Regions from separate parts of the Homo sapiens genome. Here regions 2 and 3 are each linked to region 1. The links come from fine-mapping of genetic effects on gene expression. A gene starts in region 1. Each other region holds a variant in brackets. All regions are shown on one strand. Distances are from middle to middle.

Region 1 (5,337 bases):
CATACGCAGGTTGGGCCAGCAGACGCAGTCATTCCTAAACGCCTACTCGAAATCACAGTATTTCATTTCTAAAGTCACGGAAATAATAAACCAGAAATTGACGTTGAACCAACAGTGTCAAAAACCTCTACAGCAATCCACTCTATTTCCTTGATATTGCTCTCTAACCACTGATAAAAACTCTTTGAAGTGGCCGAGTAAATATGATCATTTGATAGTACTTGGACCCAACAGTGCAAATACAATCGCATTGCTATCCCCTGGGGGCTCGGGCCAGTCACACACTGCGGGCAGGGTTGCTATGGAGGAACCAGTGTGCTTGGCGCAGGAGCAGGCCAGGAGGGAGCACTGCTCCGAAGAGCCACCCGCCTCCGGATCTTCCTCAGACACACACACAGACTGAGAAGGGGAAAATGCTGGCTTTCGAGTATGTTTCTGTTTCTGCAACCGCGGAAAGGATGGACCACAAACAGGCAGTGGGAAATGCCAGCTCCGAGCATCAGCTTGCTTTTACAGCTCCCGCTGACATTTTTGTAAAGGATCACAGGTGGGGGTGGGGAGAAACATCGAAAGCGCAGCCTGCAGCCGCCAGGGAGAGCTGGGAGGGGGCGGCAGGAGAGACCACCTGGGGGCCTCCCCCGTGGGCCGTGAGGCCTGTGGCCACGGGCGCCCCTTCGCGCTCGGGACTCGGTCCTCCTGCCCCCCGGGCGGCCTGGCTGAGGAAGGGGCATGGGTCGCCCCGCGTGCTAGAGCCCCGTGAGGTGTGGAGCATCCCCAGCGCCGCCGGGGGCTCTCGCGTGGAGCCGGCGCGCAAGGTCGCGGCGGGCTGAGCAGCTGCTGTGGGTGGCGGCCCGGCCCCGCCCTCCCGGCGCCTCCCCAGCCAGCCCCGCGCGGCGCTCACCTTGCCCGGGAAGGGCCCCGGGAGGAGCAACCTCAGGGCCTGCCTCTTGAGCTCCACCAGGCGGGCGTTGCAGTTCTCGCACCAGACGCCGCGGTCCGAGCCGGGGGAGGAGCCGCCGCCGCTGCCGGAGCCCGGGGAGCCTGTGCCGAAGCCCGGAGAGCCGCCCAAGGAGCCCGGCGAACTAGTGCCGATGCCGGGGGAGGCGGGTCCCGGGGAGCCGGTGAACGAGCTCGGGGACGAGGTGCCCGAGCCGGGAGACGGGGTCCCCGAGGAGCCGAGCGCTGAGCCCGCGCCCTCAGGAGTGGGCCGGCTGCCGGCGCGCGACTCCTCGTATGCTTTCCGGTACCAGCTTTCCGGGGAGAAGGGCGCTGCGGGCTTGGTGGGCGAGCAGACTTCATTCACCTGCGGGGAAGACACGCCGGTGTCAGGGGCTGCAAGGCGGCGGGCTGCAGCGCCCAGGAGCTGGGTCATACGTGCGCCACCAAGTACCCGCTCGAACCGCCCACGGGAGTCGGTTGGGGACCTCTCCAAGCCCTGCGGCCAAATTGCCCTCCGTCTGTCTCGTTAATTGTCCTTAAGTGAGTCCCCACCGCCCAGGTGACCCCTGCGCTGGTCCCCGGTGGCCTCCTCCTGGGGTCAGGAAGGGGACTCGCTCGGGGCCGTTTCCACGGCTTCTGCAAGGCGGGGGGGATCCATAGGTTCAGCGCCCCACGCTTTTGAAGCCGGCACCTATCCCAGCAAGATCCCGGGAACAAAATCCTGGAAGACCCTATGGGGGGGGTAGGGGGAGGGCTGTGATTTCAGGATTTTTATTCATACGGGGTCCAACTCTCCGGATCCTGCAGGTAAACGAGAGGCTCTCACGGCTCCAGCTAAACGATCCGAGGTACTGCCCAGCATTCATGGGAAACCCTCCCCTTCGGCTTCACTCTGCCTAGAAGTGCAGGAATGCGGCAAAAGTTACGGGTGCGTGGAAAGGAAGGAACGAGAGGGCTGAAAAAATTCCGAGAGCGAGGCGAGCGTGCGGGCGTCCCCGCGGCCGACCCGCCTCCGCGCACTCACAACCCCGCCAGCCCCGGGGGCGCCTCTGCAGCGGGGGAGAGCTCGGGGCCGGGGCCGCACGATCCCGGGGAAAGGGGGACCTCCGCCGAGATGGGTCTGGTAACGCGTCTCCGCGTCGTACCGTCACAACTTACCCCGTATTTCTTGCCCCTGGTGGAGACCGCAAGCCTCTCTTTATTCCCAGCTACCGAATTCATGGTGGCTTTTCCAGAGGAGAGTATCTAAAGGTTCCACCGACGCTACATCCAGAAGGTCCTCCAACCCAGAAGCGTCCCCCGGCTGCAGGGGGCTGGCTCTCAGCCCTCAGGGCAAGGTTTCTTCAGCGGTGGGGTGGGAGGGAATGAAAGCAAATGGATCCCACAAGTAATAGCACCAATTTGCAGAAAGGGTTGGGGTCGCTGGTTTATTCTTCTCTTCAAAGCATGCTTTTCCTCGTCCCCTTCTGCCTCTTCCAGCCGCACGTCCTCTTGTCACGGCCACATCCACAGAACTGGCATTTTCTTCAGCCAAGTCAGTCCGTGCTCCCCCACGAGGAAAGCGAGGGATACAATCAGGGCTCGCGGCCGCTGCCGGGAAGGTGGGAGAGCCGAGCCGAGTCAGCTGTGGGAACTTGTCTCCTTCACCGAGCTTGGTAACTGAGTTCAAAGAAATTCTCCCAAAATATAAAGATCCAGACTCGGGGAGGAGCCTCGGCGTGTCGCCGAGCCAATATCCGCCGGCCCGTTTCGCCTGACAGTTGCGCGAGGGCCGGGAGAGGGGCGGCTCCGCGTGGCCCGGGAGCGGTCGGCGGTCACAGCGCGCGTGTGCGCCCGGGCGCAGCGCGGAGGAGCCTCGGGAACCTGCCGCCCTCGCCGCGCCGGCCGGGATCCATTTTATGTGGCGGCGCTCGTGCCTGACATTGCGAGGCCTGGAGCCGGGCTGGGGCTGGGGGCGGGGGATCGTCGATCTCGCCGCGTGCGGGGAAGTTCCTGGCGCGCGGCCCGGGCCCGGGGCTCTAATGAAACGCCGCTGCGCGAGCCTGGAGCCCGGGGGCCGCGCGAGCGAGCGTGGCTGGACGGAAATGCGGTGCCCCAGCCTCCCCCGCCCCCAAGTTCTTTCTCTTCCTGACAAGGCTTGCAGGTCTGTCTGTGAAACGCCGTGCAAAAGGGATTGAGTCACAAACAAGTCCACAAACATGCCGGGTCCTCCCCCCGCCCTTTGTTCTCGGAGAGCTGCCGGGCAAACCTTTTCTGGAATTGCCCTACCGACCCCGGGCCGGCCGGGGGGCCACCCTCCCCGACCGCAGCCGCAGGACTAGGGCCCTTGGTCCCCCGCCCGCCCGAGCCCCGGTCTGTGATGGACTAAGCCGCCCGGGGCTGGGACAGGTGAGCCTGGTGACCCAGCGGGCCGCTGCCGGGCAGGGGAAACTGAGGGCTTCGCCGCGCTGCACGCGGACGACTCTGGCCTGGAGAGGGGGTGTGGCGCGAGCTGGCCTTGGCCTCTCCTTGCGTGGGATCGGGCCCCTCGCCCCCCGCCGCCCGTTTCTTCCTGCGCCTGGGCCCCGCGGGGTCTCCGGAGCACCCCGTCATCGCTCCCTCTCCGATCGCCCCCCGCCCCAGTCCCCCGGCGCAGCGCCCAGGAGCGCAGGAAGCCGGCGTATGCCAGGCTCCACACGTGGCTGCTCTGGGGTGTCATTTTTCATTTCACGGGAGGACATTTCTTCTGGTGAGCCAGCAGGTCTGTTTTGTTGTGACCTTTAATTAACACCCCGCGAGACGCCTCTGGAAGGACTGGCCGGGCGCAGGGATCACGTGGGGTGTAACGGCATCTCCGCGCCCGCGGGGAGACCCAGCCCGGGGGTGGGCGAGGGCGCGAAGGACGTTCAGGGCTTTCTGGTCGCTGACTTCCTTCTGAGCTGTGGACGACGCAGGAGGGGGCAAGAAGACAAAGGTTCGGGGTTCTGGAAGCCTGGGGCCACGCCCCCACTCTGCCTTCCTCGGGGACAATTTCTTCTGTGCCTCCCGTGCTCTGCCCCACTCCTCCCCGCTCCAGCTCCTGCGCGGGAATATTTCACAGCCACCAAAGCGAGGTAAAAAGGTCAAAAGGAAGATGGCAAGAACAGAGTGGACGTTTCCGTTACGTTCCCACTTCCAATTTAAAAGCGATCCTATCAATAGGGGACCTTAGGGGGCAGGTACACCTCCAGGCAGCACGCGCCAGCTCCCACCCGCATCTGTATTTCGCGTAGGTGCCGCGAAACACATCATCGCCATTGGCCACGAGCCGCTTATCAGCCAAAAAGCAGCGTGTGGTGAAACGAGCCGGCGAGGCCGCGGGTGGGGAAGGTGGGGTGTCGAGGGGGAGTGTTGGGGAGCTGCGCGATCCACCTCGGAGACGGGGGAGCCCAGAGCTGCTCTGATTTGCATTTCTAAGTAGCTGGGGGCCCAAAGCGTGTTTGGTGGGCTCCGAGCGCCCTCTGTTGATTAAAGTTTATAACCGGAGGCTCTGCAAGAGTTTTTAAGAAGCTTTCAAAAATTGATGTTTATGTAAAATGTATATACATAAGATGAAACGCACACATTTTAATTGTTAAGTTCTATGAATTTTGACAAACGTGTACTCTGCGTAGGCCACCACCTCGATCAACATCTATAAATTCCTGTCCCTCTTGAAGGTTATCTACCTTTTCCCAGGCAATCCCCACCTCTCATAAGAAACTACTGTTCTGATTTCTATCAGCATGGGTTAGTGTGGACTGATCTGGAAGGGTTTTTAATTCATAGAATCCGTACAGCATGTACTCTTTTGGGTTTGGCTTTTTTCACTTAACACAGGTTTTTGAGTTTCATGTTGTTGCTAGTATGGGTCTGTTTTCTATCTCTACTCTCTTTCATTCTTCTGTCTCTCATGCCTTTTTTTGTTAATTGAATAACTTTTCAGTATTCCAGTTTCATCTCTCTGTTGACTTTTTAGCTCTGATGATTATAATATGGATTTTTTTTTTGAGGCAGGGGCTCACTCTGTTGCCTGGGCTAGAGTGCAGTGGCGCTATTATGGCACACGGCAGCCTCCATCTCCCAGGCTCAAATGATCCTCTCTCCTCAGCCTCCCTAGTAGCTGGGACTACAGGTGCACACCACCACACCTGGCTAATTTTTTTTTTTTTTAAGTAGAGACAAGGTTTCCCTGTGTTGCCCAGGCTGGTCTCAAACTCCTGAGCTCAAGCTGTCTTCCCGCCTCCGCCTTCCAAAGTGCTGGGATTATGGCATGAAACCACCATACCTGGCCTATAATATGAATCTTTAACATTTCATAGGCTACTTAGAATTAACATTGTGCCGCTTCACCTAAAATGTAGACTTGCAACCTCTCCATCTTACCTTCCTCCTTTGTGC
Region 2 (5,337 bases), 360 kb before region 1:
TTTTCTTAAGATCACTCAAATGGTTATGCACAGAGCTGGGACTCAAACACCCAGGTCTTGACTTCTACTCGAGCACGCTTTCCATTCTGTGACATTGCCTCCCTGTCTTCCCAGGTCCCCTGTCATTAAGGATCTGGGTCCTCTGTTGGAAAGTGTCTGAGAGACAGACCTACCGCTGACAGGAGAACATGAGGACAGTATTGACATCAAGGCTATGGCCAGACGCTAAGCTAAGCACCATGCATTATCTCATTTAATTCTCGAAAAACCTAATGAGGTAAGCTTCGCGTGCATTTTACTGATGGAGAGAATAGAAGTCAAGCAATGACCAGCAGTAGCTCAAATGGAGGTAACAGCTCTGGGTTCTACTACATTCAGATGTTACCTAATCGCCACTCTTCCACTGACTCCTAGAGGAAGATACGAGAAAAAATGTCTAGGAGAGAAGCCAAGTCCTTCCTCTGGTCAGGAAAACTTGCAGAGGCATTTTTCACAGGTCATTCTCCAAATTTATTTTAATTTTCTTTTTTAAAAACCTTCATTATATAAATGTCTATTTTTTATTTTATTATTATTATTATTATTTTTGAGATGGAGTCTCACTTACTCTGTCGCCCAGGCTGGAATGCAGTGGAGGATCTTGGCTCACTGCAACTTCTTCCTTCTGGGTTCAAGCGATTCTCCTGCCTCAGCCTCCTGAGTAGCTGGGACTACAGACGCCCGCCACCATGCCTGGCTAACATTTTTGTATTTTTAGTAGAGACGGGGTTTTGCCATGTTGGCTAGGCCAGTCTTGAACTCCTGACCTCAAGTGATCCGCCCGCCTCGGACTCCCAAAGTGCTGGGATTACAGGTGTGAGCCACTGCGCCTGGACTTATTTTTTATTTTTTAACTGACAAGTGGAAGTTGTATATATTTATCATGTACAACACATTGTTTTAAAATATGTACACATTGTGGAATAGCTAGACTGAGCTAATTAACATATGTATTATCTTACATACTTTTTTATGGTGAGAACACTTACAATCTACTCTCTTAGCAGCAATTTTCAAGGACGCGATGCATTGTTATTAACGATATTTACATGTTTCTCCCCCGCAGTGTCTCCAGTGGAAGAAGTGGGAAGATGAGGTTCGGAAGGGGTGCATTCTTTCAGCGTGCCACAGGCTTTGCAGCAAAACTCACCAGGAGCTTGAGAGTTCTCTGCAGTGTAGATGAAATGAGGGAGGAATGGAGTTTACAGGGAGAAAAATGTGGGCCGATGTAACACTAAGGCCAATTAGCTCAGACAAAGGGCAAAAATGAGAGCTGGCAACCTGTCTAGTAAGAAACGTGAGCAAGGCCCTAATGCAGGTGCTGTTCCTCAGGGTCCAACAGCTGAAGGCCACGCTTGGTTTTTACAACATTTCTTGGGCTCCCAGCTTTTCAGAACAGCACCCGTTGTTAGAAAGACGGCTGTCCAGAGAGAGAACATACCAGCATAGTGGGATCGTTGAGCAAAGCAAGAACACTGGCGGTGGATCTCAAGCAAAGCTTTCTGGCAGAACATCGGGCCGAAATGAAAGCTTCGTTCCATGTGTAAGGCACTGATCAGTTTAAGACTTTTCTTCACCATCTGCCCTTATCAGTTTTGACCTGCTAGGTGCTTCACAGAACTTTGCTTGAAACTTTAGAGACAACCCACCTGTCTCTCTCGCTGTCTCTTTCTCTCCTTTCTTTCACCTTGACTCTAGTATTTTTTTTTAATTGCTCAGCAGTTTTCCCGATGTCAATCAGCTGCCTCTCTCAAAGACCATGTGCAGGTATCAGCATATCTGGTCTCTTTGCTCATTCACTGCTAAAAAGCACTCTCGGTCCTCCACGAAAACACGTGAGATTCTAGAGGGGGCGGCGGGGTTGGGGGGGGGTGCAGGTTGGAGCTGTCCACCAGGGGCAGTTGAGAGGCACAAGCTGTGGGGGTGGAGGAGGGTGTGGAGGAGGGTGGGGTTGCTTCCTCTGT[T/G]AGTGAGCAGAAACTCGAAAGATGGTTTCTTTTTGCCTTTTCTTTTCTATTTCTGGAGCAAGCTTTCTCCTTTGCTCAAAATCCAGGGGCATGATGAAAGACTGTCTGTCTCCCCTAACCCAGGAAGGCTATAACTGGTATCTGCTTTAACAGGGAACCCAAAACAAGGATGAGAACTGGAATTTGGGTAAGAAAATTATTCTGTTTTTAGTCATTGTTTTTTAATGATTTTCCTTTCCCCGGCATGATTTTTGCTCTAGGTTTTCCACTCTGCTTCAAGCCTCTTCCAGATGCAGGAGTCTAACAGAGTCCACATAAACAAGAAACCAAAACAAAACGGCACAAGATCGAAAGCTTTCCCCTTGTGATACAACCACTTTATGTGCAGAGAGGCGCTCACATGATGCTGCCAACATGTGTTTTCTGTCTCAGATTTCCCTTGATAACAAAGGACATATTTTAGAAGGCGTGGCCCTAGGTGCATTTGGCCAGCAGGAATCCGAGTGGAGTTTGGGGATTTCATTTGGGTTTAGGCTGATCCCCTCGGGTGCCCAGTGCTACAGCCCTTGATGATGTTAAACCCCAATTAATAAAGTTGTTAGGAACACTTTGGGTCAGGTTTGTAAGATATGATCTCATTCTACTGCTCACAGAACTGATTTAATATTCAGGAATCAACTAAGCTCATTCATTTCCAAAATTGGCAGCCCTGCATGTTGCTTCACAGTACTCCCTCTGTCCAAGGCTGGGCAGGGTATGTTAAAAGGAAATCTGCAGAAGAGTCTTTCATGATGTTCCAAGACTCAGAGAGAAGGATGGGGGCTGGGAAACAGGCAGGGTGGACAGGTGGGAGGGACAGTAGCTCTGCCTGAGGTATGAATGTGATAGACAGAGAAAGGCAATGATAGCTCAGAAAAACTCACGACTCTTATTGTTAGAAATCCCACTTCCAAATCTATGCAAGTTTTAAGAAGCCAGAAATAGCTGCATTAACATTACCGTATGGACTTTTTTTAAAAAGTTGCAAATGACCATAAAAAATATCAGCCATCTCTTTTGATGACCTTACCTAAGTGATTTATGATCTTAAAAGCCTCCTCTAAATACTGCTTTTTAATCAAGAAAGCTTATGTTACTCTTCCTACACAAAATTAACCTCACTTCAGATTTTGAAGAAAAGGCAGATCATATTTTTAAATTTCAATTTTTCATCTTTTAAATAGCCGTTCCTTTCTCTTGTGAAATAAACTGATTTTGGTCTTCAAGTGACTTGTTTTTCCTCCCTGAATACTTAGGAATTGAAGTGCTTAAACGAAGCCCTCACACAGAAAGATGGAAAAGTCTCTGACTGGTATAAACTAGCAATGACTAGCTTTCCACTAGACAGTGGCCTGCAACCCAAGAGTGACCAGACATTGTACTCTAGAATAGGGAGATGTCCGACCTCAAGAAAAGTTGAAATGGACAGGAAACATAGTCAACATTTGACATTAGTTAAAAAACAAAACCAAACAAACAAACAAACAAACAAAAACCCTCACATTTACGCAGCCAGAAAGAACCTGCTCTGAAAGCCACAGGCTAACTTCATTTTTATGATCCTGTAAAGAGAATACATTTTAGTTCTTTGATTCTAATATGAGCCAATGTCAAATATTTTAGCAACTCTGAATAAGCCTGATTATAGCAATGACTGTCAGTTCAGAAACCTTCTTCATTTATTACCCATTTCATTCCCATCCTCCGGAGGATGTTTGTAGCTTCTATGTCGGTAGTTTGTGTGTCTCTTCTGATAGAACTAGGTATTCTGCAAGTCCATTGAACAAGAAGAAAGCTTGCACAACCTGGACCCTCCTAACTTCTTTGAAATGGTTTATGCATTTTATTTTTACTTTTCTCAAAAGGAAACTGAAAAAGTTAAAGTAAAAAAAAAATAGCAAGAAAACAGACCACCTAACTCCAGCAACATATATAACTGCGTTACTTACACTGCTTTCCAATCCATCATCATTGATAAGTCATGGCTAAATAATCAAGTGCAGAATCCATTTCTTCACGTCTGCTAATAAATAGCTTCTCTCAAATGTCTCTTGCAGATCTGGGGCCATCTCAGGAGAAAGTAAAATTGTGCGAAGGTGAAGGAGGAAAGGCTGGAAAATTCTAAAATCCATGGGGGTCTGAGAACTCTCAGAGCAGACCCTGGTGAAACATTCTTGTGATTCCAGCCTTTGGCTAAACCATGATCCTGGCCTCACTGAGCTCCCAGCCACCTTCCCAGTGCAGCTCAGCCCCTGCTCCAACATTGCATTTCCCTCCAAGAACAGTGCATGGATGGGAGAGGAGCTCACACAATCCTGCCAATCCGCACATGCAAGCACGCTTCTCAAAGGAAGCTGCACCAGTTTCACTCTGGTGTCTGCTATCTCAGAGAGAGAGAGGGAGGGAGGGAGGGAGGGGCAGAGGCAGGCAGGCAGGGAGGGGTGAAACAGGGAGAGAGGGGAAGAGAGAGAGAGAGAGAGAGAGAGAGAGAGAGAGAGAGAAGCTCTGCTAAAAGAGACAGCCGAGAAAGAAATACTTGCTACAACTCCAATTAACCCACAGTAGCTTAGGGTTCTTGGCACAGCAGCTGCAAAATATACTGTCAAAATCAAGTGTTTAAAATCTTTAATTGTACATCCCTGTACACATTTAGCCACGTATGTGCAGACAAAGCTGATGGAACCCAGGTTTTGTATATGTCTGTGACTCTGCAAGGGAACACTTGTAGACAAACAGATGCAGATATATATCCCCATGAGAATAACATCTGCATGCACGTTTCATTTTCTAAGTGAAATTGTCTAGTCTCACAGTTTGCACGCCTTAAAACTATTCCAATGCTCTCAGTAATGAAAGTGCAAACCCAACAAACAGCCCTTTGCCTCTGACCCCATCTCATCTCTGATCGTGTTTTCCTCAGTTTGGTCTGGGTTCCTGTTTCTTTTTCCCTGCCTCAGGAAAGAAACCCCCAAAAGAGAAGAAGGTAGAGAGGCGAGGCAGGAGCTTTCAGTGTGACTGTCAACTTCGCATGCCCCACTCCACTGTTCATGGCACTGCAGCCCAGGACCCTCCACAGACCCAGCCAAAGCCCAGATGATGCCCAAGGGAGGGCGTGGCATGGAGCAGAGACATGAGACCCACAGACGGGGCTCTGTAATAGCACAGGAACCGGTGAAGATGTTTAAGGAAGAAGAAGCAACAGAGGAGCTGAAGGCAGGAAGGGAGAAGGGAGAAAGGCACAGGTGAGGCAGGCTGGGAGGGGCAGCCATGGTAGCAGGAAGCACAAGGTCACCTG
Region 3 (5,337 bases), 460 kb before region 1:
AAAGCCCTCTAATCCTCCCCACAGAGGCAATAAAGAGAATGAACAAATCAGAGACCCGGTGTCATTGTGGACCTTGAGCAACAGTTGCTTGCATGCTTAGATTACTCATAAAAGTGGGGCTTTTGAAATTATCTTTGTCAACAGGACAGGTGCGATCTCCGTATCATTAGCGCATTACCCTGAAGTATCACTAGTCCACGCTGAGCATCCCTAACCCAAAAAATCTGAAATCCAAAATACTCCAAGAATCTCAAACTTTTTGAAGGCCAATATGATGCCACAAGGGGAAAATTCCACACCTGACCTCGTGAGGGGTTGCAGTCAAAATGCAGTAAAAACTTTGTTTCATGCACAAAATTATTGAAGATATTGTATAAAGTTACCTTCAGGCTATGTCTATAAGGCATATATGAAACATACATGAAATCTGTATTTAGATTTGGGTCCCATTCCCAAGGGATCATTACATATGCAAATATTCCAAAATCGGAAAACAATCTGAAATCTGAAACACTTCTGGTCCCAAGCACCACCTTGTTTTAGGTGCCCAGTACACGCGTCGTTATGAGAAGCAGCTCTCTGATCAGTAGGGCTTCAGGGTCTGTTTCCCAGTGCTGGGATTCCCGAGGAGGCTCTCAAGCTATTACAGATTTAGCTTCGCAAAGCAGAGGAAGGCCTCCATGAGGCTGAAGGATCAGTCCCACTAATTCCAATGAGCTTTTAAACAGGGAGATATTTTAAGCTTAACCTAGTGCTATCTGCAAAACAGGGATACATCAACAAAGACTTTTCTATTTTGACTGGAAATGTTTAAAACTTTTTTTTGTCTGTCTACTTATATGTGTAAAATGCATTTGTGTGTAAAATTATAAATGTAAGATGCATTTGTGTGTAAAATGTATAAAATGCATGTGTGCATATGAGATTCAGAGGCGCACACAGAGTCTATTTAGTTCTTGCGGCAGAGATCTCTTCTAATGGCTTCCCTGCAGGGTGACTAATTAATAAACTTTCCCCTAATTGAGTTCTGGCTGCCAGGTCCGCAGGGATTATTACTTATATGTAAGTAAACAAAATTTCCATTTTAAACAACCCTCCAAATCTCCTCATTATATTTTAAACAGTTATAAATTCACTGAAGTCAAGTGAGTCCCAGGCGGGGAGGCCGTGTGCATTCTGGCCGGGATCCTTTCCCCTCGGGAGGGAAGAGATGTCCCCCAGGTCTGCCGATCGCACGACCCCTGGACTCCTTCCCCTTCTTTGTTCTCATCCACTGAAACATTAGGAAGGACCTAACCGAGGTTTTGGAAACCATTCGTGGTATTTGCCCTTTCTTTTAACCTGAATGCATTATTTAAAAGCAATTCTCTTTCACAACTTAAAAATAGGAAGAAGATGAGCTGGCTATTAAATATTTAATAAGGGTGCAGGATTCCTTAGGTACTGATTTGGGGTGGATCACTGGGTTTAGGGAATGTCTTGGCCTAAACTTTTGTGGAATCTGAATTTCAAGTTCTTATATTTGAAGTCATTTAATGAACTGTTTCCTTGTTTTCAAGATTTCTCCCTACTTTCAGATTCCAAATCGAAAGCAGAACTGCAAAAAAGAAAAAAAGTACAAAACCGAAAACAGAGTTGTCCTCAGTTTGGTTTGAAACCTGGAAGGAGGAGAGATAATCCCATCTCCCAAGTTTTTCTGATCAGTGCCATTTGGGAGTCATTTGGCTCAAGGGTTAGATGTTTTGCGAGTCACTCTTTACTGAAAGTACAAGAAAGTCCTGCAGGCTCTGATGATGATGATTACTGACAGCTGCTTAAAAGAATAAACTAAACATTTGTCAGACTCTTACATTGACAGGGTGAAGACACTACCCAGGAGAAAACAGTGAGGGCAGGGTTCAAGGCCAACTCCCACACAGTCAGGAGAAATGTGGATGCAATTGTGCTGTCGATTTTAAAGGTCTGCATCTCCTCATCCCTATCCGATTTTAAAGGTCTGCATCTCCTCATCCCTATCCGATTTTAAAGGTCTGCATCTCCTCATCCCTATCCGATTTTAAAGGTCTGCATCTCCTCATCCCTATCCGATTTTAAAGGTCTGCATCTCCTCATCCCTATCCGAATGCGTTTCCTTCTTTAAGAACGTGATTCTAAACGGAAGCGCTCTACATGGTGTGAGCCTGTTACCAAGAATACATCTCCCGAGAGATTCCCGTTCACTATCCTCGGCTCCTCTCCAGTGAGACTTTGCTCACCATCATGGGCTGTCGAGAGAGCTGCCCTCAAGCTAATGGGCCACTTCCCTGGGGCGCCTCGCCCGCTGTAAGTGAGGACCAGAACCTCTCGGTTCTTCACAGCAGCCACTGGAGGCAGCTCAGGGCTGATTTTCAGAGCCATAAAAAGCAGCCCCAGTTAGAGGAACTCCAGCCCCAGCTGTGGATATTTTCATTCTGTCCTGGTGGTAGGGTAGGAACCAAGCCTCCAGGCCCAGTCAAAACTGAAGGAGAGGCCAGGTGCGGTGGCTCACGCCTGTAATCCCAACACTTTGGGAGGCTGAGGCGGGTGGATCACGAGGTCAGGAGTTCAAGACCATCCTGGCCAATATGGTGAAACTCCGTCTCTACTTAACGTACAAAAATTAGCCAGACATGGTGGTGGGCACCTGTATTCCCAGCTACTCAGGAGGCTGAGGCAGGAGAATCGCTTGAACTCGGGAGGCGGAGGTTGCAGTGAGCCGAGATCACGCCACTGTACTCCAGCCTGGGCAACAGAGTGAGTGAGACTTCATCTCAAACAAACAAAAAAACTAAAGGAGCAGGCAGAACAGGCAGCAGGAACCAGAAGAAACAAGAGACGCGTGCTGCAGCATGGGGGAGTCTCAAATGCATTAGGACACTACGTGAAAGAAGCCAGACACAAAAGGCCACATCTGGGCCACACGAGTCCATTCCCACGATATCCTGGATAAACGCAAAACCAGGACAACAATCAGATCCGTGGTT[G/T]CCAGGGGCTAGAGGTCAGGGGAAGGGACAAACGGCAAGAGGGAACTTTAGCCTTATGCTCTATTTTGATAATGGTGGTGGCTACATGACTGTATAGATTGGCCAAAACTCATCTAAAGACACATCAAAGTGATGTTTTGGTGAATGTACCTTATACTGCAATAAACCTGGATTTTAACAACAGTAACTAAAGAGTAGGAAGAGAGGCACCGAGGTGGGGGAAGGGAGGCGCTTTTGCCTGGGGACAGCAGAAGCCCGCAAAGAGCTCTCTCCCCAGGAGTACTGTTGTCCAGGTCTTTTGAGCCACGAGGAGGCTTAGGGGAAATCAGGGGGAGCCTGTCCATAGATCCCAGCTGGAAGTCTTTTTATTTTTATTTTCTGAGACAGAGCCTTGCTCTGTCACCCAGGCTGGAGTGCAGTGGCACGATCTGGGCTCACTGCAACCTCCGCCTCCTGGGTTCAAGCAATTCTCCTGCCTCAGACCCCCAACTAGCTGGGAGGTGTGTGCCACCACGCCCAGCTAATTTTTTTATTTTTAGTAGAGACGGGGTTTCTCCATGTTGGCCAGGCTGGTCTCAAACTGCTGACCTCAAGTGATCTAACCACCTTGGCCTTCCAAAGTGCTGGGATTACAGGTGTGAGCCACCACGCCTGGTCCTACTTGGATGTCTTCATTCTAGGCTTCATCTACAACAGCTTTGCGGACCATCTCTGCTTTACTCAATGAGCTTTACAATTTCCAGTCCAGGGTTAGACTCTTAACTCAGTTTTCTGATTGTTTTTCTGGCATCCAGTGTCTTTGAGACAATCATGCAGAAAGCGCTGGGAGCCAGTTGCCTGTGTATTGAAAGCCCGGCAGAGCGGGACATGGAGGAACCACGGAAGCCACTGCCCGGCCAGCCCAGCAGCCCCGTTACCCACAACCTGCCTTAGGAACCCAGTGAAATCAACAGACCACTTTGCCCCTGGTCCAAGATCCCCACTGGAGACATTCAGCTGATCTGGTGCTCAACTCTTTTGGGCATAGAGTAAACACTACTTCACAGAAGGCAGAGAATTGCACCCCAGCCCGGGCTGACTTTGGAAACACAGCCAAGAGGGGTCTGTAGGGGCACAGTGTTGGGTTCCTGGCAGGGCAGCTCACTCGAAGAGCAGGCACCGTACCTGGGTTTTGACAGTAAACCTTCACTGACGATTTGAGGGAGGCAGCCAGGGTCTGGGTAGTTATTCAAAAGTCTGATTTCTATGCTATTTTAAAAAACATGGTCCATACAGTGGCCTCGAGCTAATGATGATAACACACTGCCGGAGTGCTTTGGTGGATAAATGTTGGTCTTTCTTGAGGAGCATTTTTGAGGTCTGTGAACAAAAAGATACTGTCAGGCAGTTGTTTTCTTTTTGTAACTTTGACCTCTCACATTCTCATGGCAATGACATTTGTAAATTACCTTTACCAAAGCAAACTCCTTTCCCTGGACAGTTCAAAAGTGAACTTCAGCCCAGATACTATAATTATCTTGAATTACGAGTCACTGAACTGCATATTGTAGTCTATTAAGAAAAGTTTGGCTAGGCATGGTGGCTCATACCTTTCATCCCAACACTTTGGGAGATCAAGGCAAGAGGATCTCAAGACCGGGAGTTCTAGACCAGCCTGGGCAACATAGCAAGGTCCCATCTCTACAAAGATAACCAAATAAATAGCTAGGTGTGGTGGCATGAGCCTGTAGTCCCAAGCTACTTGGGAGACTGAGGCAGGAGGATCACTTGAGCCCAGGAGTTTGAGGCTGCAGTGAGCTGTGATCGTGCCACTGCACTGCAGCCTGGGTGACAGAGCAAGACCCTGTCTCTCTCTCTCTCTCTCTCTCTCTCACACACACACACACACACACACACACACACACACACACACACACACACACAAAGGTCATGGTTGCCCAAGGGATTTCTGGCTGGGGCCAGAGCCGCTAAGGAGGCAGGAGGGTGGAGTGGCCGACTTACTTCCCCCTTTCCCGCTCTTCTCCATCCGGTACTGGTAGATGTGCAGTGTGAAGAACACGTGTGAGTTGCGGTGGTCGTCCTCATCACAGTCCTGTTGGTGGCTCCTGCGGGAGGCAATGGCGGCATCCAGGAAAAAGGCAGCCTTCTCTGCGGTGGGGGCCCGCAGCTCGCTCTGGTTCTGCAGCTGGAAGACAGAAGCCAAGAGATGAGGCTGCAGGCTGAGGAGGGCTTGCTGTCACTCATGCCTGGGTGTCCCCAGCACCATTCAGCTGGCTGTGTGTTCTGTATAGTAAAGCCACGTGCCCCTCTAAGGCTGAAAACCCTTCTGAAACAA

Alleles and levels. Positions count from the first base shown, and alleles are read on the strand shown. Sizes are in standard deviations (SD) of each study's normalised expression. Not every link is listed here.
In carriers of allele T in region 3, the expression in sigmoid colon of the gene that starts at base 2,600 in region 1 tends to be lower than with G alone (small effect, 0.28 SD a copy in GTEx).

What was found. PIP is the estimated chance that this variant, and not a neighbour inherited with it, causes the effect.
Region 2: its variant is the best candidate, but not a certain one, in a credible set for the expression of KIF26B in blood mononuclear cells (TOPMed, PIP 0.58).
Region 3: its variant is the best candidate, but not a certain one, in a credible set for the expression of KIF26B in sigmoid colon (GTEx, PIP 0.76).

The regions. Positions count from the first base shown.
Region 1 is chr1:245,152,248-245,157,584 of GRCh38, reverse strand. KIF26B (kinesin family member 26B) reads right to left here and starts at 2,600. Exons shown (of 15, transcript NM_018012.4): 1 at 2,098-2,600; 2 at 902-1,303. The coding sequence starts at 2,160. RefSeq lists silencers at 652-1,191, 3,059-3,258 and enhancers at 3,113-3,788, 3,789-4,464.
Region 2 is chr1:245,509,783-245,515,119 of GRCh38, reverse strand. All of the region lies in intron 4 of KIF26B (kinesin family member 26B), which reads right to left. Among named protein-coding and RNA genes, the nearest start is that of KIF26B-AS1, 280 kb to the right of the region's middle. The variant T/G (reference allele first, on the strand shown) is at 2,004.
Region 3 is chr1:245,611,643-245,616,979 of GRCh38, reverse strand. KIF26B (kinesin family member 26B) reads right to left here. Exons shown (of 15, transcript NM_018012.4): 9 at 5,004-5,187. Among named protein-coding and RNA genes, the nearest start is that of KIF26B-AS1, 380 kb to the right of the region's middle. RefSeq lists enhancers at 4,561-5,061, 5,062-5,337. The variant G/T (reference allele first, on the strand shown) is at 3,003.